4 linked regions of the Homo sapiens genome follow. The protein of the gene in region 1 interacts with the protein of each later gene in a pairwise test. Each region holds a gene or a part of one and is shown in the gene's direction. Other genes may lie near its edges. The genes, in order: MORN3, NFU1, RSPH1 and HINFP.

Region 1 (4,413 bases):
TCCTGGGGTCTCCAAAGGGCTTGGGGTCGGGGAGTGGGGGAGCAAGACCATCGAGGGCAGGCTTCTTGCCTCCTACAGTCCCAGGTGTCCTTTTTGACGCTTCCTCTTCAAAACCCCTTTTGACCGGCTGTGGTGGCTCTTGCCTTTAATCCCAGCACTTTGGGAGGCCAAGGCAGGCGGATAAGTTGAGGTCAGGAATTTGAGACCAGCCTGGCCAACATGGTGAAACCCCATCTCTACTAAAAATATAAAAGTTAGCCAGGTGTGGTGGCAGGCACCTGTAGTCCCAGCTACTCGAGAGGCTGAGGCAGGGGAATCACTTGAACCCGGGAGGTGAAGGTTGCAGTGAGCTGAGATTGCACCACTGCACTCCAGCCTGGGCGACAGAATGGGACTCTGTCTCAAAAAAAACAAAACTCGCCAGGCACAGTAATCCTATAATCCTGTAATCCCAGCACTTTGGGAGGCCGAGGTGGGTGGATCACGAGGTCAGGAGTTCAAGACTAGCTTGGCCAAGATGGTGAAACCCCATCTGTACTAAAAACACAAAAATTAGCTGGGCGTGGGGGAGGGCACCTGTAATTCCAGCTACTCAGGAGGCTGAGGCAGAGAATTGCTTGAACCTGGGAGGCAGAGGTTGCAGTGAGCTGAGACTGTGCCACTGCACTCCAGTCTGGGTGAGACTGTGTCTCAAAAAACAAACAAACAAACAAATAAACAAACAAACAAACCATTTCACTGAAGACCAGTGCATTCCAGTCCTGCCTGAAACCTTCTATTTGCACCCTGGGCCACACAACTGAGCTGGGCACGGGGTTGAAAGGAGGTGGTCTCCTGGCTTCTGAACACCCTTGAGTAAGGCAGTTGGCCTTCAGCCTCCATTTACACATCTGTCCAGTGGGGTCTTGTCCAGTCCAAGTCCTCCTGGGCATGATGTGAGGGTTTGAGGAGAGGACATTGGTAACAGCGTCTTTCAAATGCCAGCTCCACCATCCCTCTCTCCCCTGCAGAGAACACAAACGCTTCAGGAGAAATTCAAGCCTGTGTCACCCGATCGCTCAGACCAGTGCGGCTCTGGCTGGAGGAGTCAGCAGCAGCTCCAGGCATGACCCCGGCACCCTCATAGGGCCCCTCACTACCCCCAGCACTGGGTCATTTCTTGCCAATAGGAAGGCTGGTGCTTCTCTCCCAGGCTGTCCTCGGGACCCTCTTCATTCTCTGATCTCATCCTGGAATGCATGAGAATAAAGAATAACCAAGTGGTATAAGCCTGGGCCTATGGGATAAGGATGGGGCACTCGAGGGGGCTCAGCAGGGCTTTCAGGTTTAGAAGAGGGAAGACCTGCCTTGGCTGGGCTGCCTGGGTTTAGCTTGGGGGAGTAAGGGCAGGTCTTAGGCCGGGTGCAGTGGCTCATTCCTGTAATCCCAGAACTTGGGAGGCCAAGGTAAGAGGACTGCCTGAGGCCAGGAGTTCGAGACCAGCTTAGGCAACATAGCAAGACCCTGACTCTACAAAAAAAAATTTTAAAATATAAAAGAAAGGAAAAGAAAAAGAGAAAGAAATGGCAGGTCCCCTGTGAGATAACCCAGATGACCCAGAGAGAAGGCCTGTATCCTGCCACACTGGCTGCCAAGATTGGAGATCATAAAATTTCCTGACCACTTCTCAGCCTAACACAGGGCTCTCAACCTTGAAATCCCATGGAAACTTTGCAAAGCTGTGGAAGCCCAGGTCCCATGCCCAGAGATTCACAGGTTCACATCTAATTCATCTGGGGTGAGGCCTGAGCTTTCAGAAAATTCCCCAGGTGATTTTTTTTTTTTAAGACGTAGTCTCCCTCTATTGCCCAGGCTGGAATGCAGTGGCGCGATCTCAGCTCACTGCAACCTCTGCCTCCCATGTTCAAGCGATTCTCCTACCTCAGCCTCCTGAGTAGCTGGGATTACAGGCGCATGCCACTGAGCCCAGCTAATTTTTGTATTTTTAGTAGAGATGGGGTATCACCATGTTGGTCAGGCTGGTCTTGAACTCCTGACCTCGTGATCTGCCCCGCTCAGTCTCCTAAAGTGCTGGGATTACAGGTGTGAGCCATCGAGCCTGGCCTTTTTTTTTTTTTTTTTTTTTTTTTTGAGACAGAGTCTTGCTCTGTCACCCAGGCTGGAGTGCAGTGGCACAATCTCGGCTCACTGCAACCTCGCCTCCCTGGTTCAAGCGATTATCCTGCCTCAGCCTCCCAAGTAGCTGGGATTACAGGCACCTGCCACCAAGGCTAATTTTTTGTATTTTTAGTAGAGACAGGGTTTCACCATGTTGGCCAGGACGGTCTCGATCTCCTGACCTCGTGATCTGCCCGCCTTGGACTCCCAAAGTGCTGGGATTACAGGTGTGAGCCACTGCTCCCAGCCAAGATCAGATGTTCTTGCATAATGGGCAGGTGAGCTCTGGAGTCACAGTGCCTGGGCGTGAATCTCGGAGCTGTGTGTTCTCAGGAATGTCACCCAAACTCTGTTCTGTTGGTCTCCTCACTTGCAATATGGGGCATTAACAGTACTTACCACCTGGGGTTACTGTGGTTAGTTACTGTGAGGATGAGATAAGGCGGTGGTTTTAAACTGTGGGTAGGATTTTGTCCTCCCTCAGCCCCACTCTTTCTTGGGGACATTTGGCAATGTATGACATTTTTGATGTCACAACAGGCAGGAAGAAGGCTACTGGCATTGAGTGAGTAGAGACCAGGGATGCGGTTAAGCATAGTGCAATATCACCATGCTACAAAAAAAAAAAAAAAAAAGAATTCAGCACCTGTAATCCCAACTACTTGGGAGGCTGAGGCAGGAGAATTGCTTGAACCTGGGTGGCAGAGGTTGCAGTGAGCCGAGATTGCGCCATTGCACTCCAGCCTGGGCGACAGAGCGAGACACCATCTCCAAAAAAAAAAAAAAAAAAAATGTTGAGAAACCCTGAAATACCACGATTCTAGCTAAGACCTCAGCAAGAGGCACATAGCACATAGTAAAGCCTCAATAAACACCACTGACCTTACTGAGGTTCTCTCTGCCCCCTAAGTCATAAGTAGGGTGGCCTCACCAAGGGTGTGGTTCTCAGTCTGTACCTCTGGCACTGGGAAGCCCCGCCTGGCCACCCTAGGATGCAGAATTAATCATAACTTCCAGATATGGAGCACTCACTCTATTCCAGGCCGTGTGCTGACAGCTTCGCAGCAAGCATTCTCTCCTGGCACTCCCCGACAACAGTGAGGTGTCTTGCTATTACTGCCATTTTAGAGGAGGAAACAGGTTCAGGGAGGATCACAAGTCATCAAGCTAGTACTGTGCTTAAACTTAGGTCTAGCTGTTCTTAATGTGCAGAAGAGTGTAAAGGGTTACCATTTTTAAAGAAAAAGTGGGGGCAGGGCATGGTGGCTCATGCCTGTAATCCTAGCACTTTGAGAGGCCGAGGCAGGCGGATCAAGAGGTCAGGAGTTCGAGACCAGCCTGACCAACATGGTGAAACCCTGTCTCTACTAAAAATACAAAAATTAGCTGGGTGTGGTGGAGTGCATCTATAATCCCAGCTACTCAGGAGGCTGAGGCAGGAGAATCACTTGAACCCAGGAGGCGGAGGTAGTGGTGAGCCAAGATCACGCCGAGCCGAGATCGTGCCGCTGCTCTCCAGCCTGGGCAACAGAGCGAGACTCCATCTCAAAAAAAAAAAAAATGTTGGAAGAGGGTGTGCTTGTTTATGTACAAAATGTCGCTAGATTTAAACACAATAAACTGGCAAAGATGGTTGTCTCTGGGGAGAATTGGGGACTTGGGAACAGGAGCTGAAGAACAACTTTTCAGTGTTGTGTTTGGAACCATGTGAATGTATTATGTATTCAAAATGTAAATAAAAATGAAGTTAAAGAGACTGTGCTCCTAACTAGGAGTGTTTGTCTAAGTTGCCTGGGTGTGAGAGCACCTGGGGTGCTTGTTAGAAATAGATTCCAAAGACACACCCAGACCTACTTAAATCAGAATCCTCCAAGGGCTTCGAAACCTGCATTTGACAAGCCTGGCTGATGAGTCGAGTCCCGGCCAGTTTAGGAACAAGAACCCAAGACAACAGGATCCTAGCCCAGAAATAATTCCAGCTGGATCTTGCATCCCTACAGAAGTAGGGAGGTGGCTGTCCTAGGGGAATACGTAAAAGATGTCCAGGACGGCCGGGTGCGGTAGCTCACGCCTGTAATCCCAGCACTTTGGGAGGCTGAGGCAGGTGGATCACCTGAGGTCAGGAGTTGGAAACCAGCCTGGCCAGTGTGGTGAAAGCCCATCTCTGCTAAAAATACAAAAATTAGCCGGGCGTGGTGGCTCATGCCTGTAGTCCCAGCTACTCGGGAGGCCGAGGCAGGAGAATCCCTTGAACCC
Region 2 (3,868 bases), on another chromosome or scaffold:
ATTCTAGAGCTTTACGTGTAGCACAATATCAACATTTTTTTTTTTGCCAACATACCTAAGGAGTATAACACAGCACCTTGTCATCAGTAATAATGAGTCTCACTGCAGTGATTCTCAACCAAAAAGCATGGCCTTATGGAGAGAGATTATCAAGGAGTGAAGGGATGTGTGGAAATTAGAAATTTCCAACCCACAGAATTTCAGGTAATTCATTCTTTTTTTTTTTTTTTTTGGAGACAGAATCTTGTTCTGTTGCCCAGGCTGGAGTGCAGTGACACGCTATCTCGGCTCACTGCAACCTCCACCTCCCAGGTTGAAGCAGTTCCCATCCCTCAGCCTCATGAGTAGCTGGGATTACAGGCACATGCCACCATTTTTTGTATTTTGTATTTTAGTAGAGACGGGGTTTCATCATGTTGCCCAGGCTGATTTCAAACTCCTGAGCTCAGGCAATTTGCCCGCCTCGGCCTCCCAGAGTGCTAGGATTACAGGCATGAGCCACCGTGCCTGACCACCTCAGGTAATTCTGTGCCCTTAAGGGCTCCATTGGGAATCACTCATCCTTGGGTAGTATTAAAATTCATCTGTTCCACAGTGAGCAGGTCTATATAGACCTATCCCCAAAGTCTTAGGGAGCTGAGAGGCTGAAGACAGAGGCTGGCAAATCCAGTTGGTCAGAAAGAAACATTTAATAGGGACTGAGGAACAGAAGCCATTTATCGGGCAGCTGCAAGATGATGGATTCCTGCATTGTTACCCGCTAGACTCAGGGCTTATATACCAGGAGGAATGGGTATACATGCTTCAGAAGATATGTGTAGGACAATTGAAGTCAGCCCCTCTGGAAAAGGCAAGAATGCTATTTGCCTAATAGCCTATAATTTGCTTAAGGGCAAGATTTATGCTAAGTATGTGTTTGTTTAGGATAACATCAAGATTATTTTGACCTAAAGGCAGAATTAAGTAGAAAACTTAGAGGCATTCCTAGAACTGAGGGTAGTCAATGTGGCAGATTAGCATCCAAGATGGAGTTGCTTTAGCCTCCACACCATCGTTTTGGTCCAGTACATGACATCTTCTCTTTGAAGTTTTTATCCATCCCCCACTTGGAATTAAGTTCTTCTTTGACAGGTCCAAAGCTTCTGTTTTTGCTTTATGTTTATGTAGCTTTCTGTATCTGTTTTAGCTTTATGTTTACGTGGAAGCTCCCTAAGAGACTTGAAATCATATCCAAGTCTTTGTGTTCCTCTGCAACAACTAGCTGTGTGCCTTACAAATGTCCTATACATGCTTTGTATTAAGTATTTGGGAATATTATTCCAAATTAAGGAATAATTCTGCCTAAAATATGAGTTGGTTGACAAAATTTTTTGGATTGGGTATTGTTGAAATTGGATGTAAAATATTAATTTCTTGGGAATAAATACCAATTTTTACTCAACCAAAAAGACAGCCTATGAAAGAATTCTTTTTCTATTGATTGTCTCAGATCAGAGCCAGAATCTGGATTTTTTTTTTTTTTTTTTTTGAGACGTAGTTTCACTCTTGTTGCCCAGGCTGGAGTACAATGGCTTGATCTTGGCTCACTGCAGCCTCCACCTCCCGAGTTCAAATGATTCTCCTGCCTTAGCTTCCCAGGTAGCTGGGATTACAGGCGCGCGCCACCACGCCTGGCTAATTTTTATATTTTTAGTAGAGATGGGGGTTTCGCCATGTTGACCGGGCTGGTCTTGAACTCTTGACCTCAGGTGATCCACCTGCCTCAGCCTCCCAAAGTGCTGGGATTACAGGCATGAGCCACTGTGCCTGGCCTAGATTTTTTTTAAAAAAAAAAACCTTACTTTGTTCCATTATCATCTATATGCCTTAAAAAATTATGTTAGTTGATACTTTGGTGGATTGACTGAGGAACATTTTTATTCAATTGTCCAGGGTAGGGTGATGAATTGGCCTTCAGATTAGAAACTTGAATTGGCATCTAATTGTAGTAGGTGTGGTGAGGAGAAAAAAACATTCTTAGGTTTATGTAACTTTTTCCTTCTCCAATGGAGTTAGTCTGTTATCTTAGTAATACATTAACTCATGGAAAGATAATAGCTGTTGTAACATTTTCCTGAGGCTTAAAATGATCTTTTATCTCAGTAAGACTAAAATAATTAGTTCCTAATATGGTGGGGTTTTTTTGTTTTGTTTTGTTTTTCACTTTCCTTGGGGATTCATTTTAATAAAAATAAATGTTTTTAAAATAACAATTTGGTATAGCTTCACAGAATATATTTAAGTAAATAAGATGGTTTTGAAAAAAAGAAAAAGTCATTTACATTAGTCTTATGGCTAGAGAATACCAGTTAAATTGTTTTTTTTTTTTTGAGACGGAGTCTTGCTCTATCACCAAGCTGGAGTGCTCTATCACCAGGCACTAGGCTCACTGCAACCTCCACCTCCCCAGTTCATGCCATTCTCCTGCCTTAGTCTCCCGGGTACCTGGGACTACAGGCGCCCACCACCACGACCGGCTAATTTTTTGTATTTTTAGTAGAGACGGGGTTTCACTGTGTTAGCCAGGATGGTCTTGATCTTCTGCCCTCATGATCTGCCTGCCTCAGCCTCCCAAAGTGCTGGGATTACAGGCGTGAGCCACCGCGCCTGGCCCCAGTTAATTATTTATAGTCTTTTCTGCCCAGCTGAGACTCTGCTATGGGTAGCCTCTTTGAGACAAGGAGAAGTGATCAATGCTTTAATTAATTTCCAAATATTTAATTTGCTTTTATTTTATTTTATTTTTTTTTTGAGACAGAGTCTCGCTGTGTTGCCCACGCTGGAGTGCAGTGGCGCGATCTCGGCTCACTGCAAGCTCTGCTTCCCAGGTTCACGCCATCCTCCTGCCTCAGCCTCCCGAGTAGCTGGGACTACAGGCGCCCGCCTGGCTAATTTTTTGTATTTTCAGTAGAGATGGGGTTGCTTTTATGTTTTTAGGATACCGGGTTATGATTCAAACCTTGTTCTTTGGGGCTGTTGATAGATTTATTCTTACTGGCTTGTCATGCCTCATTATAGAGTGTATCAGGTAAAGAAGTAATATTAAAATCAGGAAAACAGCAAAATCTAATCATTTTCTTAATTCTTAAATTGTCTTTGTTTTTTGGTTTTAGGTTATGGATGATGAATCAGATGAAAAAGAAGCAAACTCACCTTAAAATAATCTGGATTTTCTTTGGGCATAACAGTCAGACTTGTTGATAATATATATCAAGTTTTTATTATTAATATGCTGAGGAACTTGAAGATTAATAAAATATGCTCTTCAGAGAATGATATATAAATATTGCATGTTTGCTTTACCTCATATGAGTTATTTATAACCTCTTGAATCATCTTCTGTACACGTGGATTTTATCCAAGGATATTTTTATTTTTGTCCCTCATTTCCCATGGCTCTTTCTTTGCATATGTGTGAAGGAGTTTAAAATACATTTCCCCCCATCTAATTTATTTACTTTTTTCCATACAGGAAGAAACAGAATGCTTTTTAGAATATTCTAAAATAGCTTTTTGTGAAATATCTAAAACTATTTTTACTGAAGTTTTTAGCTTAAGAAACAGCTAAACAAGTCTGTTTTAAAAATGGTATCTGGCTACTAGCCCCCAATTAAGTAGCAAAGAACTGCTTAAGACCAAAAAAAAGAAATCAAAAATGTCCGGGTATGGTGGCTAACGCCTATAATCCCAGCACTTTGGGAGGCCGAGGTGGGCAGATCACGAGGTCAGGAGTTTGAGACCAGCCTGAACAACATGGTGAAACCCCGTCTCCACTAAAAATACAAAAATTAGCCGGGCGCGGAGGCACGCGCCTGTAATCCCAGCTACT
Region 3 (7,058 bases), on another chromosome or scaffold:
AGGTGGGAAAGGTGGGACAATTGAGTATAGTGCCGGGGGTTTAGCATAGTGGGATGACTCAAGGGTATGATATTTACAAAATGCTTAGCACCTGGTTAGCGCTTAATGAATGGTAGCTGTAATTGTGTCAATTTTCATTACCCAGGAATATGAGGGGGGTCGGAATGAGGCAGGCGAAAGGCACGGACGTGGGAGGGCACGGCTACCCAACGGGGACACCTACGAAGGGAGCTACGAATTCGGTAAAAGACATGGCCAGGTCAGAACCGTTGACTTGACTGGATGGTTTTCTCTATTTAATACTCTGTTAGCAAATGCTACATTCAGCAATGATATGAATGATATAATCAATGTGTTTCAGGGGATCTACAAATTTAAAAATGGTGCTCGATATATCGGAGAATATGTTAGAAATAAAAAGCACGGTCAAGGCACTTTTATATATCCAGATGGATCCAGATATGAAGGTAAAATGTTATCACTAAGCAGATTTTCGTGTTACAGAAGTTTTTCTTTCTTTATGACTGAACTTGTCTGTGAATACTGACATGTATGAGAAAGCTTAAAGTTCTCCAGTTACTCATTCAACGAACACAGATCGTGTTACTATATTCACAGTGTTGATGCAGAAATAGGAAAGCCTTGTAATTAATTAACTCACTAATGAATCTGTAGTGGGAAATCTGTCCCTGTGGCCAGCATGTCCATGTCCTGGGAGCAGACAAAAGGGAGGCTCCTGAGTGGACGCAGGCCTCGCAGCTGGTGGACCCACGGCTTCAGCTGCTCTGCGGCATTCATCTTCCTGAACCTGTCTTTGCATTTTCCATTTCTGACCAACCCCGCCATCTGACGGATGTGTTATTTCTTCAGATCGAGTGTTTCCTTACATCAGGGCTTCCTGTCTGGGAGTCTTCCTGCCTTGTTAAACTGACTTTTCCTACCTGTGCCATAAGTCCTTACAGGCCAATGTTATGTTTGAGGAGGATTCTTTTTCCTTTATTTCCAAGAACCTCCCTGCCGCCCCTTGTGCCGTTGTCACCTGGTGTGACCACATTAGTGATATCCCAAACCTGGGCAGGGGGACCGGCAGGGAGCGTGTTGTGAGTCTTCAGAAAGTGTATATAAAATTCTGTGTTCTGGGCTTTTTGTTTTTTCCCTAGGAAGAAAGAAATTGTCTAGTTTTCTTCAGATTTCCAAAAAGATCTGTGACCCTAACCTTGGACTCTGGTGACAATAGGTGTGAGCTTGCATAGGTGACTTCACATCTCCTTGCCTCAGTTTCTCATCTGTAGCATGAAGATTCAATGGATAAACACAGGGAGACACCTGCAACCTTGCCTGATCCATAGTGAGCACTCAGTAACTGGGGCTAGGACTGTGATGTACCACTTGTGACAGCATCACTTCTTAGTGAGGAGGACATATTCTTACAAAGTGCGAGCTATAGTTGCTTGCTTTGCTCCTAGATAAAATAAGAACCAGTAGGTGGTTCTTATTTTAATAGATGTCAGTGATGATTCTGTCCAATTCTGAGACCAAGATGGAGGGTTTTAATACCATCCCTGTTAGATAGAAATTGTTTTGTTTTGTTTCATAAATCCCAGAAGGCTTGCTCTATAAGAAGCACCATCTGCTTTTTAAATCAACTTTAAACAATTTAATTTGGGGCTTAATTTAATTCTTTCCAAATCCTTATGCACCTAATCTCATTCTTGTCACTTTTGATTTTAGTGTAGATGTTGATACAATTTGAACAACACACACACACACGAAGATATTTAGGATAAGGGATTTAAGGAATTTTGAATATGAAGGTTAAAAATGGGTAACTGTTTCTCTGACACCAAATGCATGGATTTTCCATGCTATGTACTTCTCCAGTCTTCTGTGAACACCAACTGAGTTTCCAATGATGCAACTCCATTCTGACACCACCCAGAGTTAGCACAGACCCCACAGGTTAAGGGCTCAGTTTCCAAGACTGCCCCACTTCAGATGTCAACCTCAAGTTGTGGATCCGGAGGGTACCCACAGTTCTACCTGACTCGGCTACAAATTGGGGGTTCCTACAACACCCTACTCAGGTTTGATAATGTGCCATAGCGGCTCATAGGACTCAGGAAAGCACTTTACTCATGTTTACTGTAAAGGATATTATAAAGAATATGGATGAACAGCCAGATTCAGAGGTACAGAGGGCAAGGCCTGGAAGGTTCCCAAGCACAGGAGCTTCTGTCCTTGTGGAGGTGGAGTGCACCACCCTCCTGGCACATGATATGTTTATCACCCCAGAAGCTCAACAAATCTTGCTCAAGAGTTTTTACAGAGCTTAATCTCTGGCCCCTTCCTTCTTCTTTACCAAAAGTTGGTGGGTGGGGCTGGAGGTTCTATCCTTCTTATCACTTGGTCTTTCTGGTGTTCAGTCCCATCTTGAGGCCATCCTGGGCCTCATTTGCATAAGTTCAGGTGTGGTCAAAAGAGTCTCATTTTGAATAACAAAAACATTTCTATCAGTCAGGAAATGTCAAGGGTTTTAGGAGCTCTGTGCTGGGAACCATGAATAAAGACCAATATTTCTTATTATGCCACACTAACATATAAAGCTCTTCTGGTAACAGTTGGGATTTTTGATTCTCCAGATGGCTTTGTATCTTAAAGGGTGCAAGATTTAGCCACTACCCAGAGATTTCTTCTCTGACAAAAGCTTAAATAAGTGTCTTACTTCATGAAGGCAGCAATGGAAACTGAGGTCAGAAGTTATAATATTAATTATAACATAGTAAGCCAATACTCTTCCAATCACAAAATCTCAGTTAATGTATGGCTGAGTTATTCATAACAGTGTATCTTGGCTGGCTGCCATCACAATGGGCCAGAATGGTTTTGTGCAGGGCAGTGTGTTCAACGTCAGGACCCTGTGGCATAAAGTCCAGTACCCTACCTGTCTCCCAGATGGTCACACAAGTCCAATTAGGGAGTCCAGGAGCCAGCAGAGGCTATAGTGCTGCAGGAGAGGAGTGGGGAGACGGTCCTGGGTGGCGGGTGACTTGGATACAGGCAGGAAGGCCGAGGTTTTTAGGGGTAGTGGGGGATGAGATGGAGGGGAGGGTGGGTGCCAGATGTGGGGGAGGCCTAGACCCCATGTACTGATGCTGAGGGTTGGGGGTGTAGGGCCAACTGAGGACTCTGAGGTTAAGGGGGAGAAAGAGCATCCCTATTCCCTGCTGGCCTTGTTGCCTGTCAAACAGAACTCATCAAAACAAAGAAGTTTAAGAATGACATTGTGGAGAAAGAAGAATGACATGATAACTTGAACCTGGGTTTTTTGGAAGCCCCCGAATGGCAGGAGCTGGAAAAAATGAGCACTTGACTGTTGGGATGCTTGTGGAGAAGAGAGCATGGTGTTAGACAGACTCCAATTTTCATTTCAGTCTTGCTACCCACCAGCTGTGGGACCTTGGGGAATGCATGCAGTCTCTCTGCTTTTCAGGTTCTGCATCTGTAAAACCATATTTCAGCGATTACACATACCAAATGCTGTGGCAAGTGCACGGAACCCTGCCCAGGGTCTGACACCGAGTGTTTCCCCATAAGTGTGGGCTCCTTCTCTCCTGTGTTTGGCTGACCCAGCAGTTTAGGGAGCCAACTTGGCAAGACCATGGGCCAGCATGGCAAACCAGTGACCAACCAGCATTTGAGGGGGGAGGAGCATCTTGGAGAGCTTCTCATTTTAAATTGTCTTCAATCCCAAGTGCCAGACAAACTGCTCTACCCAAGGAGCACCTGCTCCACACCAGCCAACTGACCCACAACCAGCCAATCAAACAGCCAACCAATCAACCAACCAGCCAACTGACTAGCCAACCAAGCAACCAATCAACCAACCAATTAACCAACCAACTGTCTAACCAACCAACCAATTAGCCAACCAGCCAACCAACCAACCAACCAACCAACCAGCCAACCAGCCAACCAAACAGCTAACCAATCAACAAACCAGTCAACTGACTAGCCAACCAACCAAACAACCAACGAACCAGCCAACCAAACAGCCAACCAATCAACCAACCAGCCAACTGACTAGCCAACCACCCAGCCAACCAGTTAACCAACCAACCAGCCAGCCAACCAACCAACCAACCAATCGGTTAGCCAACTAACCAACCAGCCAACCAGCCAACCAACCAACCAACCAGTTAACCAACAAATCAACCAACCAACCAACCAACCAACCAACTGGGAGTTACTCCTGAGAAGAAATATAGTTGGAAAAAACCTCAGTTGACAAGTTCAAGAATGATCAGAAAGTATAGGATTGGGGTAGAAAGACTTTAAAAAAAAAATTAAGTGCAAATTTAAAGCCACAATAATAAAGTTTACAAATGTCACTCACCTCAAAAAAGGAAACTTGACTTATAGCTGTTAGAGATGTGCCTCAGCAGGTGACTTTTCTCTGAATTACCTTCTCTATTTGTGCAGGGTCCCTGTGGTGGCATTACAAAATGCTGGGCCGAGCCTCTTAACAGGTTTTTTAAGTAGATTGGGACTTTAAAAAATTTTGCTCACCGTCCTCTTGGTGCAAAATTTAGTGTCTTTTGCAACTTAACTGTTCTCTTTTATTTTTGAAATTTTTCTGCAAAATATGTAATATATTTTTCTCACCATGACACCCTGGAGATCCTCTGACATGGCCAAGAGAGGAGGGATGTAATAATTTTGTCATGAAGTTTTGTTGGGAAGAAACCAAATGATGTACCTGTTTCAGCTGAGGTCTCTATGCCCCAGGGCTGTGCTGGAACCCCCTCATAGTAGCTCACAAAAACCCATTCTGTGCATCTCTTCCCAGCTCCATGTGTAGCTTGAAATTGGCCGCGGTGTGAGTATTTACACCACAGAACCTGGCAAATGTTACAAATCCAGGCACATCACTGCCCCTTAAGACCCAGACAAATCCCTCTAGGTATTTGCACATCCTCATGGTTAATTTAGGTTCAGGGACCTGAAGTATTTTTTACTGAATTATCTCAATTTGGGGATCTTCATCTCTCTTGTTCACATTGTTCCTGTCACACATCACATCATGGGACCTAGTCCTCTTCCTTAATTGTTAGCAGTTGCCACCTTCCCTCTCTCCATGAATTTTTGGTAAGCCTGCTCTTTTCTGAATGACTTACCCACTTTTTGAAATTGTGCCATGCAGCTTTTCGTGCTGCCTTCCCTGTCCTCAGCTGCTGCTCAGGTGCCAACCTTCCATCCTCAGGCTGGTGCTCGCGCCCTGGGGACATGCACTGTCCTTTGTACAGCTCTTCGTTCATCTCACAAAGTGCCCAGGACATTGTAGGTGCTGAGTAAATAATGGGATGATTGAGGAAATAAATATGTAGAAGTTCCTTCTGCAGATAAATTTTGGGGTTATTCACATAAACAAATATTACTTGAATAATTAGCATTTTCTTAGCCTATTGGGTATTCTTTATCTTCATGTGGAAGTGGGTCCAGTTTTTGTGTAAGCCAGAAGCTTATGTAAGTTTTGAGAACCTCTTTAAAAAAAAGAAAATATAAAGTTGGTATAAAAGTGAATTTTCATTTGCAATGATAAATCAAAATAAGTTAAAAATTTAAAAATACCACAAACATCACAGAATCTAAGTAGCCTGAGTTTTAATGTCTGACATACTTCTAGAATAGCTTTTCTCTACCTTTGTTAGCTAATACTCTTTGAATGCTTCTCCATATGGCAACCATTTTGTAATGTTTTCTATAGAGAGAATAGAAATATAATTCCTTCTTTTCTCTTTGATCAACAAATTGATCAACATTTGCTTTTTATTATTCATAGTCTCAAAACATATCATTTAGCTTAATGACTTGGTGTAATATGCACGTTTTTAAGAGCAGTCACCTTTGGGAGACCTCTATTAAGTTTCTTTCCTAAGTGAGCTGTAAGATTTGAGGACGTTTTGAGTTTTCTAGTGCAGGGATTCATACTGTGGTTGACAAAAGTAGTTTGCAGTTGTCCACATCATGGAGTGGTATTATGAATTTTATGATATCCTTGCCAATTTCAGTACTGCCTACCAAGCCTATAAGGACTTAGCAGAAGCCGTATGGAGGTGAGGAGGTGAGGGAAGAGTTCAAACAGAGGCATGGCACCAGCGGATGGAGCTGGTGTGCAGCTGGGGTTAGAGTGGCATGTTGGAGTCAGATGATTGGGTGGGAGATAGACTGAAATGCTGCCAGGTGGCTGAGGATAGATGGTCAAGCCCTGGAGTTGTTGCTGGATCTCTAAACATTTGCAAGGTAAATGAAGTGTGGTGTTAGGATCACTGGCAATGGGTCAGACAACCTTGGTTTGTCTCCCTCCTCGTTGCATCTTCGTGGTGCCTCTGACTAACCTGTGAAATGTGCTTGTCAGTACATGCAGGTGGCTGTGGCCCACATCCATACACCTCACTCTGTACCCCGTGAACTCCTGACTCAGCCCTCTCTTAGCCCACTGTCCACCGTGGCTCAGCACCTATGCCATCTGGCACAAAAGGAAGGGGTGGAGGGATGTCAGAGTGGAAACAGATAGCAGCCTTGGTCGGTGCTGTTAAAAATCTCTCTTCTGCAGGATTTCCTGAGCAGAAGGGGCCTGTGTGTGCATGGGCTTCATTTGCTTCACAACACATCTGCCTTTGCCATGGTTAACAATTTGAAGACATGGTACAGGGCATCGATCCCTTCTTCTCACCTGGGCTTGCCTTTGTGTTGTTCCTTTCAGGAGAGTGGGCAAATGACCTGCGGCACGGCCATGGCGTATACTACTACATCAATAATGACACCTACACTGGAGAGTGGTTTGCTCATCAAAGGTTCGGTTTCTATCTTGGGTCTTAACGGGATTTGCTTATGTAATGAGAACATGATGTCTGCAGATTGTTTACACTTACTGAGGAACAGAATCATAACAAAAGCCCAGTTACCAACTCTGCCAGGCAGGTCCAATCTTTCTATGGCTTTGAGGCAAGGATGCCTTTCTGTGCAAGTGTAGACTCAAGTATCTGACATCTGCACCT
Region 4 (7,058 bases), on another chromosome or scaffold:
TTACTCAAAGTATGCTTCTGGAACTGCTTGCATCACAACTGGGGTGCTGAGTTAAAAGGGCAGATTTCTAGGCTTAACTCCTGCCTTCCTGAATCCGAACTTCTCACGCAGGCGCTGGATAACTACATTCGTGTGCAGATCTAAAATTGAGAGCTACCTGGGCATGGTGGCTCACATCTATAATCCCAGCACTCTGGGAGGCTGAGGCGGGTGGATCACCTGAGGACAGGAGTTCGAGACCAGCCTGGCCATCATGGTGAAACTCTGTCTCTAGCAAAAATACAAAAATTAGCCAGGCGTGGTGACACACCTGTAATCCCAGCTACTCAGGAGGCTGAGGCAGGAGAATCTCTTGAACCCGGCAGGTGGAGGTTGCAGTGAGCTGAGATTGCGCCACTGCATTCCAGCCTGGGTAACAGCGAGACTCTGTCTCAAAAAATAAAAATAAAATGAAATAAAATTGAGAACCTTTAGTTTTTTGTTTGTGTGTGTGTGTGTGTTTTTTTTTTTTTTTTTTTTTGAGACAGAGTCTTACTCTGTTGCCCAGGCTGGAGTACAGTGGCACGATCTCGGCTCATTGCAGCTTCTGCCTTCCAAGTTCAAGCGATTCTCCTGCCTCAGCCTCCCGAGTAGCTGGGATTACAGGCTTGTGCCACCACGCCTGGCTAATTTTTGTATTTTTAGTAGAGACAGGGTTTCACCATGTTGGCCAGGCTGGTCTTGAACTCCTGACTTCAGATGATCCACCTGTCTTGGCCTCCCAGAGTGCTGGGATTAGAGGTGTGCACCAGTGCGCACAGCCGAGAACCTTCAGTTTCATGTTTATCTTTCTTCAATAAATATTTATTACAGACTGGGTGCAGTGGCTCATGCCTGTAACTCCAACACTTTGGGAGTCTGAGGCAGATGGGTTGCTTGAGTCCAAGAATTCGAGACCAGCCTGGGCAACATGGCAAAACCCTGTCACTACAAAAACAAAACAAAACAAAAATTAGACAGATGTGGTGGCGCATGCCTGTGGTCCCAGTTACTTGGGAGGCTGAGGTAGGAGGATCTCCTGAGCCTGGGGAGGTCGAAGCTTCAGTGAGCTGTGATTGTGCCACTGTACTCCAGCCTGGGTGACAGGGTGAGACTCTGTCTCAAGAAAAAAAATATTTATTACATGCCTAAGCATGCCTAGCAGTGTATAGACACCCAAGGTGCAGTATAAACTACACAGATACGGCTTTTTATGTTCAAATGGAATCTACATTTTAACAGAAGGTATTAGCAGAGTGGTGGAGTAAACCGTTGGATAGGTTAGGTAAAGGCAGATTGTATGGCACTGTGAAAGTCTGGCAGGGGACTTATGATTCAATAAGAAATAAGGAGCTTCTAGGCTCATCTGTAGGCTCTATGGAGTAGAACCGTATATGGACTAGAGTCAGCCCAACATGACCCTACCATTACCACTAGTGTGTGGCCGTGAGCAAGTCAGTTGACCTCTGGAACTTCAGGTGTTTATCTATAAATGAGGTTAAAAATAGCACCTACCAGCTGGGCGTGGTGGCTCACACCTATGATCCCAGCACTTTGGGAAGCCAAGGTGGGTGGATCACCTGAGGGCAGGAGTTTGAGACCAGCCTGACCAACATGGGGAAGAAACCCTGTCTCTACGAAAAATATAAAAATTAGCCAGGCGTGGTGGCGGGCGCCTGTAATCCCAGCTACTCAAGAGGCTGAGGCAGGAGAATCGCTTGAACCCGGGAGGCGGAGGTTGCAGTGAGCCAAAATCGAGCCATTGCACTCCAGCCTGGGAGATGAGCGAAACTCAATCTCAAAAAAAAAAAAAAAAAAAGCACCTACGGCAAAGGGTGGTGTTGGTAATTAAATGACATAATGCAAATAAAATGCTTACTGTGGTGCTTGACATATAGTAAGTGTGAAATTAAAAACAAAAAGATTTATTATCTTCATTTTGCAGATGAGAGTATTCAGAAGTTAAGTTCTTGACAAAGGTCATACAGCTAGTAGATGGTAGACAGTGGAGCCAGGATTTGAACCCTGATCCTTCTCAAAAGCCATCTGTTTGAACCTGAGCATTGTTCTGCCTCACAGAGGAATAATTCCTTCTTGGTGGGTTGCTCTGAAGCTTCATGAGAAAATGTCTGTTAAAGCGTTTAGCTCAGTGCCTGGCACACACTCAATAGTGTTAGTTTTTGTTTTCCCTTTCCACAAACACCAGACATCTTCCAGGGATTTAAGGAATTACTCCATCCTTACTGTAAAAGGGCAGGGTTTCTCATGGGTCACTGGAACAACACGTGCTGATTCTAGGCAGGCTGCCTGCCCAGCTTTTTGCCCTCAGCAGCACCTGGGTGGAATTCTTGCAGCTGTGGATTTCTTCCTCTTCCTCTAGGGTGAAGGCCATGCCGCCTCCTGGGAAAGTTCCCCGAAAGGAGAATCTGTGGCTACAGTGTGAGTGGGGGTCCTGCTCCTTTGTGTGCTCAACCATGGAAAAGTTCTTTGAGCATGTCACTCAGCACCTGCAGCAGCACCTGCATGGCTCTGGGGAGGAGGAGGAAGAGGAAGAGGAGGATGACCCACTTGGTAAGAGAGCAGGACACAGGAAGGGGAGGAGCTCAAGGAAAGGTGGAAAATCTGACTTTCTTTTCCTTAGAGGGAGAAGGCGGCCTAAGAGAATGGTGGTTTATTTTCCTAATTGTGTTTTTGTTGTATATAAAAACATTGTAAACTCATTTATAGAAAACTCAGTCAACAAGGATATAAGGAATAAATCTGCCATCCTGCCATCAAGAAGTAATTGCTGACAGTACTTTAGTGAACATTGTTTTTGACATCTCTCTGCCTGTGTTTACATATATTTAAATACAGATGAATGTGCTTTTTTTTAATCATTCTGTACAAGTTGTTGGCAACCTGTGTTTTGTTGTTGTGTTTTTTTTTTTTTTTTTTTTACTCTTCTAGTATTCCCAATTTTTTTTTTCTTTTACTGCAACCAGTCAGAAATACATCTTACTTTTTAGAGACAGGGCTTCATCTTGTCACCCAGGTTGGAGTCCAGTGTCATGATCATAGCTCACTGCAGCCTTCAACACTCAAGGGATCCTCCTGCCTCAACCTCCCGAGTAGTTAGGACTGCAGGCATGTACCACCACCACACGCCAATTTTTAAAAAAATTTTTTTTAGAGACAGGATCTTGCTTATGTTGCCCACTGATCTCAAACTCCTGGCCTCGAGCAATCCTCCTACCTTAGCCTCCTAAGTAGCTGGGACTATTGGCTTGTGCCACCAAGTCCAACCCCACTCCCACCTTCCAATTTTTTTTTTTTTTTTTGAGACGGAGTCTTGCTCTGTTGCCAGGTTGGAGTGCAATGGTTCGATCTCGGCTCACTGCAGCCTTTGCCTCCCAGGTTCAAGCAATTCTCCTGCCTCAGCCTCTTGTAGCTGGGACTACAGGCGCGCGCCACCACGCCCAACTAATTTTTGTACTTTTAGTAGAGATGGGGTTTCACCATGTTGGCCAGGATGGTCTCAATCTCTTGATCTCATGATCCGCCCACCTCGGCCTCCCAAAGTGCTGGGATTACAGGCGTGAGCCACCGCACCTGGCCCCATCTCTCACTTTTTAACCTTTGTCTGACTTATGTTTTAGGTATGCCTTTTATCAATAGCAAATAACTGGGATTTTAATAAAATCCAATCTGAAAACAATAACAATAGTGAACTGTATTCTATAGTACCTACTGTGTGTTAAGTATTGCTGGGTACTTTATTTTTTTTTTGAGATGGAGTCTCATTCTTGTTGCCCAGGCTGTAGTGCAGTGGTGCAATCTCGGCTCACTGCAACCTCTGCCTCCTCGGTTCAAGCGATTCTTCTGCCTCAGCCTCCCGAGTAGCTGGGATTACAGGTGCGTGCCACTACGCCCGTCTAATTTTTTTTTGTATTTTTAGTAGAGACAGGCTTTCACCATGTTAGCCAGGATGCCCCTGTTGGCCAGCCTGGTCTTGAACTCCTGACCTCAGGTGATCCGCCCGCCTCAGCCTCCCAAAGTGCTGGGATTATAGACGTGAGCCACCATGCCCGGCCAGTACTTTTTTAAACCTACATTAAAGCACTATTTCCCAAAGAGCCTATGAGATAGGCACTATTATTATTATTATTTATTATTATTATTTTTAGATGGAGTCTTGCTCTGTCGCCAGGCTGGAGTGTGGTGGTGCGATCTCAGCTCACTGCAACCTCCACCTCCCAGGTTCAAGCAATTCTACTGCCTCAGCCTCCCGAGTAGCTGGGATTACAGGCACATGCCACTATGCCCAGCTAATTTTTTTTTGTATTTTTAGTAGAGACGGGGTTTCACTGTGTTAGCCAGGATGGGATAGGCACTATTATTATACCCATTTTACAAATAAGGAAACGGAGGCACAGAGGAATAAAATAACTTGCCCAAAGTCACGGTACTAATAAGTGTGGCAGGATTTAAAAGAAAAAGGAAAAAAAAAACTTTTTTTCAGAGTAAGATGGAGTCTTACTCTGTTGCTCAGGCTAGAGTGCAATGGCATGATCTCGGCTAATTGCAACCTCCGCCTCCCGGGTTCAAGTGATTCTCCTGCTTCAGCCTCCCAAGTAGCTGAGATTACAGGTGCCCGCCACCACGCCCGGGTAATTTTTGTATTTTTAGTAGAGACAGGATTTCACCATATTGGCCAGGCTGGTCCCAAACTCCTGACCTTGTGATCTGCCTGCCTCGGCCTCCCAAAGTGTTGGGATTACAGGCGTGAGCCACTGCGCCCGACCAAAGCCACTTTTTTTTTAGAGACAGAGTCTTGCTATGTTACCAGGTTGATCTTAAACTCTTGGCCTCAAGTGATCCTCCTGCCTCAGCATGCTGAGCAGCTGGGACTATAAGCATAAGCCACTGCATCTGGCAGGAATACATTTTTCTTTTCTTTTTTTTTTTTTTTGTGGGAGTGCAGTGGCTCGATCTCCGCTCACTGCAAGGTCCGCCTCCCGGGTTCATGCCACTCTCCTGCCTCAGCCTCCCAAATAGCTGGGACTACAGGCGCCCACCACCAAGCCCAGCTAATTTTTTTTTGTATTTTTTAGTAGAGACGGGGTTTGACTGTGTTAGCCAGGATGGTCTCGATCTCCTGACCTCGTGATCTGTCTGCCTCGGCCTCCCAAAGTGCTGGGATTACAGGCGTGAGCCACCGCACCCGGCCCAAAATGTGGTTGATAGTTCACTGAACTGATTTCCTAACCCACTAGTGGGTCACAACACAGTCTGAAAAACTCTATTCTACAGGAAATATGGAGGCAGCTCTCCTTCTCCCACCCCAAATTCTGTTTTAAGTCTGATGACTATGAACCATAATTGATAGTTTCAAAATTCAAGTCATATTTATACAAAGGCAAAATTGGGGAATGATTATATTTTCTAAAGTATCTGTGTTTCAAAACAAGTTAACTTATATAAAGCGCTGAAAATACAGTGCTTAGGGATGCTAGAGAGATAGGAAATGGATTGGAAGAGTTGATGGGGCCTTCTTGGAGAAGGCAGATCTTGAGCAAAACATGAGGGGAAGGAGGAGTGGTGGTTTTACAAGGAGAAGTGGGAGGTGTCAGATCGAGAGGCAGCATCTTCATCAGGAACTGCAGAAACTCAAGTCAGAGGACTTGCGTGCCGGCCATTTCTGCTGTCTGTTTCTGGCATAGGCCTTGCACACACTCTCACCTCTGCCTAGACCACACTTCTTCACCTATTTACAGATACTCATCCATCGTACTTCAGAGTTCAACATGGGGACGTTTCTCAGAACACCATGTCAAATGACCTCTGTTTAATGCTTTTATAGCACCATGTATATCCCCGCTTTGTAACACTCATCACTGGTTGCAGTTTTATATTTATAGATCTGATTATTTGATGAATATGCTTTCTCCCTGACTGAAAGCTATGTGAGGGCAAGGAGTGGGACACTTTTTACTTGTTATAGTCCCTCTAACTGGCACACAATTTATGGTCATTAAATACTGGTATTTGCTAAATGAACCCTGGTAATTTGGTTAGAGTCCAGCCTCCTCACGAGTCCAGCCTCCTCACTCTCTGTTTAGTGCTGCAGGTGGAAGGTGACCTGAGCCTTGGAAAGTGTCAGACTCTTCCTTTTAAACCCCTTTCTACAGAGGAAGAATTCTCCTGCTTGTGGCAGGAATGTGGCTTTTGTTCTCTGGACAGTTCTGCTGACCTCATCCGCCATGTCTACTTCCACTGCTACCACACCAAGCTGAAACAGTGGGGGCTGCAGGCCTTGCAAAGCCAGGCTGACCTTGGCCCCTGCATCCTGGACTTCCAGAGCCGGAACGTCATCCCTGATATCCCTGACCACTTCCTGTGTCTGTGGGAGCACTGTGAGGTCAGCAGGCAGTGCCAGTAATTGGGGTGGAAGGAAGCTGGGGGTCTTAACTCTGATGCCTTGTCCCTTTCAGGGATGCCTTATATTTCCAAGATTCCTGCTAGTATCTCTCTTCCATTTCTTTTGCTCTTTTAAAATTTGTTTATTTTTTACACACAGGCTCTTGATCTGAAGCCCAGGCTAGAGTGCAGTGGTACAATCATAGCTCACTGTAACCTTGAACTCCTGGGCTCAAGCAATCCTCCCACCTCAGCCTCCCAAGTAGCTAGGACTACAGGCATGTACCACCATGCCCTGCTAACTTCTAAATTTTTTGTAGAGACAAGGTCTGGGTGTGTTGCCCAGGCCGGTCTCGAACTCTTGGCCTCAAGTGATTCTCCTGCCTCAGCCTCTCAAAGTGCTGGGATTACAGGGTTTAGCAACCGCACCCGGCCACTCCTCCATTTCTGTGCAGTGCCTTTCCTCAAAATTTCCCATCCCCATCAAGTTAATTTGGGAGAGAGCCAAGAATTCTTCGGGCACATAGGGGTGAGTCCCTCTACCCACCCTCAGTCCTCACCCCAAGTTGCCCCTGGCACAGAATTCCTTCGACAATCCTGAGTGGTTTTATCGGCATGTGGAAGCACACAGTCTGTGCTGT

Evidence for each region.
Region 2: the proteins of MORN3 (region 1) and NFU1 interact in binary tests that used the Homo sapiens proteins (3 or more experiments, as listed by UniProt).
Region 3: the proteins of MORN3 (region 1) and RSPH1 interact in binary tests that used the Homo sapiens proteins (3 or more experiments, as listed by UniProt).
Region 4: the proteins of MORN3 (region 1) and HINFP interact in binary tests that used the Homo sapiens proteins (3 or more experiments, as listed by UniProt).

The regions. Positions count from the first base shown.
Region 1 is NC_000012.12:121,648,242-121,652,654, reverse strand, and holds the end of MORN3 (MORN repeat-containing protein 3), read left to right. Parts: intron 1-1,010; 3' UTR 1,011-3,913; downstream 3,914-4,413. UniProt on the Homo sapiens protein: Assembles a suppression complex (suppresome) by tethering SIRT1 and MDM2 to regulate composite modifications of p53/TP53.
Region 2 is NC_000002.12:69,395,575-69,399,442, reverse strand, and holds the end of NFU1 (NFU1 iron-sulfur cluster scaffold homolog, mitochondrial), read left to right. Parts: intron 1-3,152; coding exon 3,153-3,197; 3' UTR 3,198-3,317; downstream 3,318-3,868. UniProt on the Homo sapiens protein: Iron-sulfur cluster scaffold protein which can assemble [4Fe-4S] clusters and deliver them to target proteins.
Region 3 is NC_000021.9:42,486,167-42,493,224, reverse strand, and holds part of RSPH1 (radial spoke head 1 homolog), read left to right. Parts: intron 1-145; coding exon 146-259; intron 260-361; coding exon 362-467; intron 468-6,763; coding exon 6,764-6,854; intron 6,855-7,058.
Region 4 is NC_000011.10:119,124,537-119,131,594, forward strand, and holds part of HINFP (histone H4 transcription factor), read left to right. Parts: intron 1-743; exon of another isoform or gene 744-1,231; coding exon of another isoform or gene 1,232-1,263; intron 1,264-2,398; coding exon of another isoform or gene 2,399-2,408; coding exon 2,409-2,589; intron 2,590-3,814; exon of another isoform or gene 3,815-3,912; intron 3,913-6,119; coding exon of another isoform or gene 6,120-6,188; coding exon 6,189-6,418; intron 6,419-6,998; coding exon 6,999-7,058. UniProt on the Homo sapiens protein: Transcriptional repressor that binds to the consensus sequence 5'-CGGACGTT-3' and to the RB1 promoter. Transcriptional activator that promotes histone H4 gene transcription at the G1/S phase transition in conjunction with NPAT.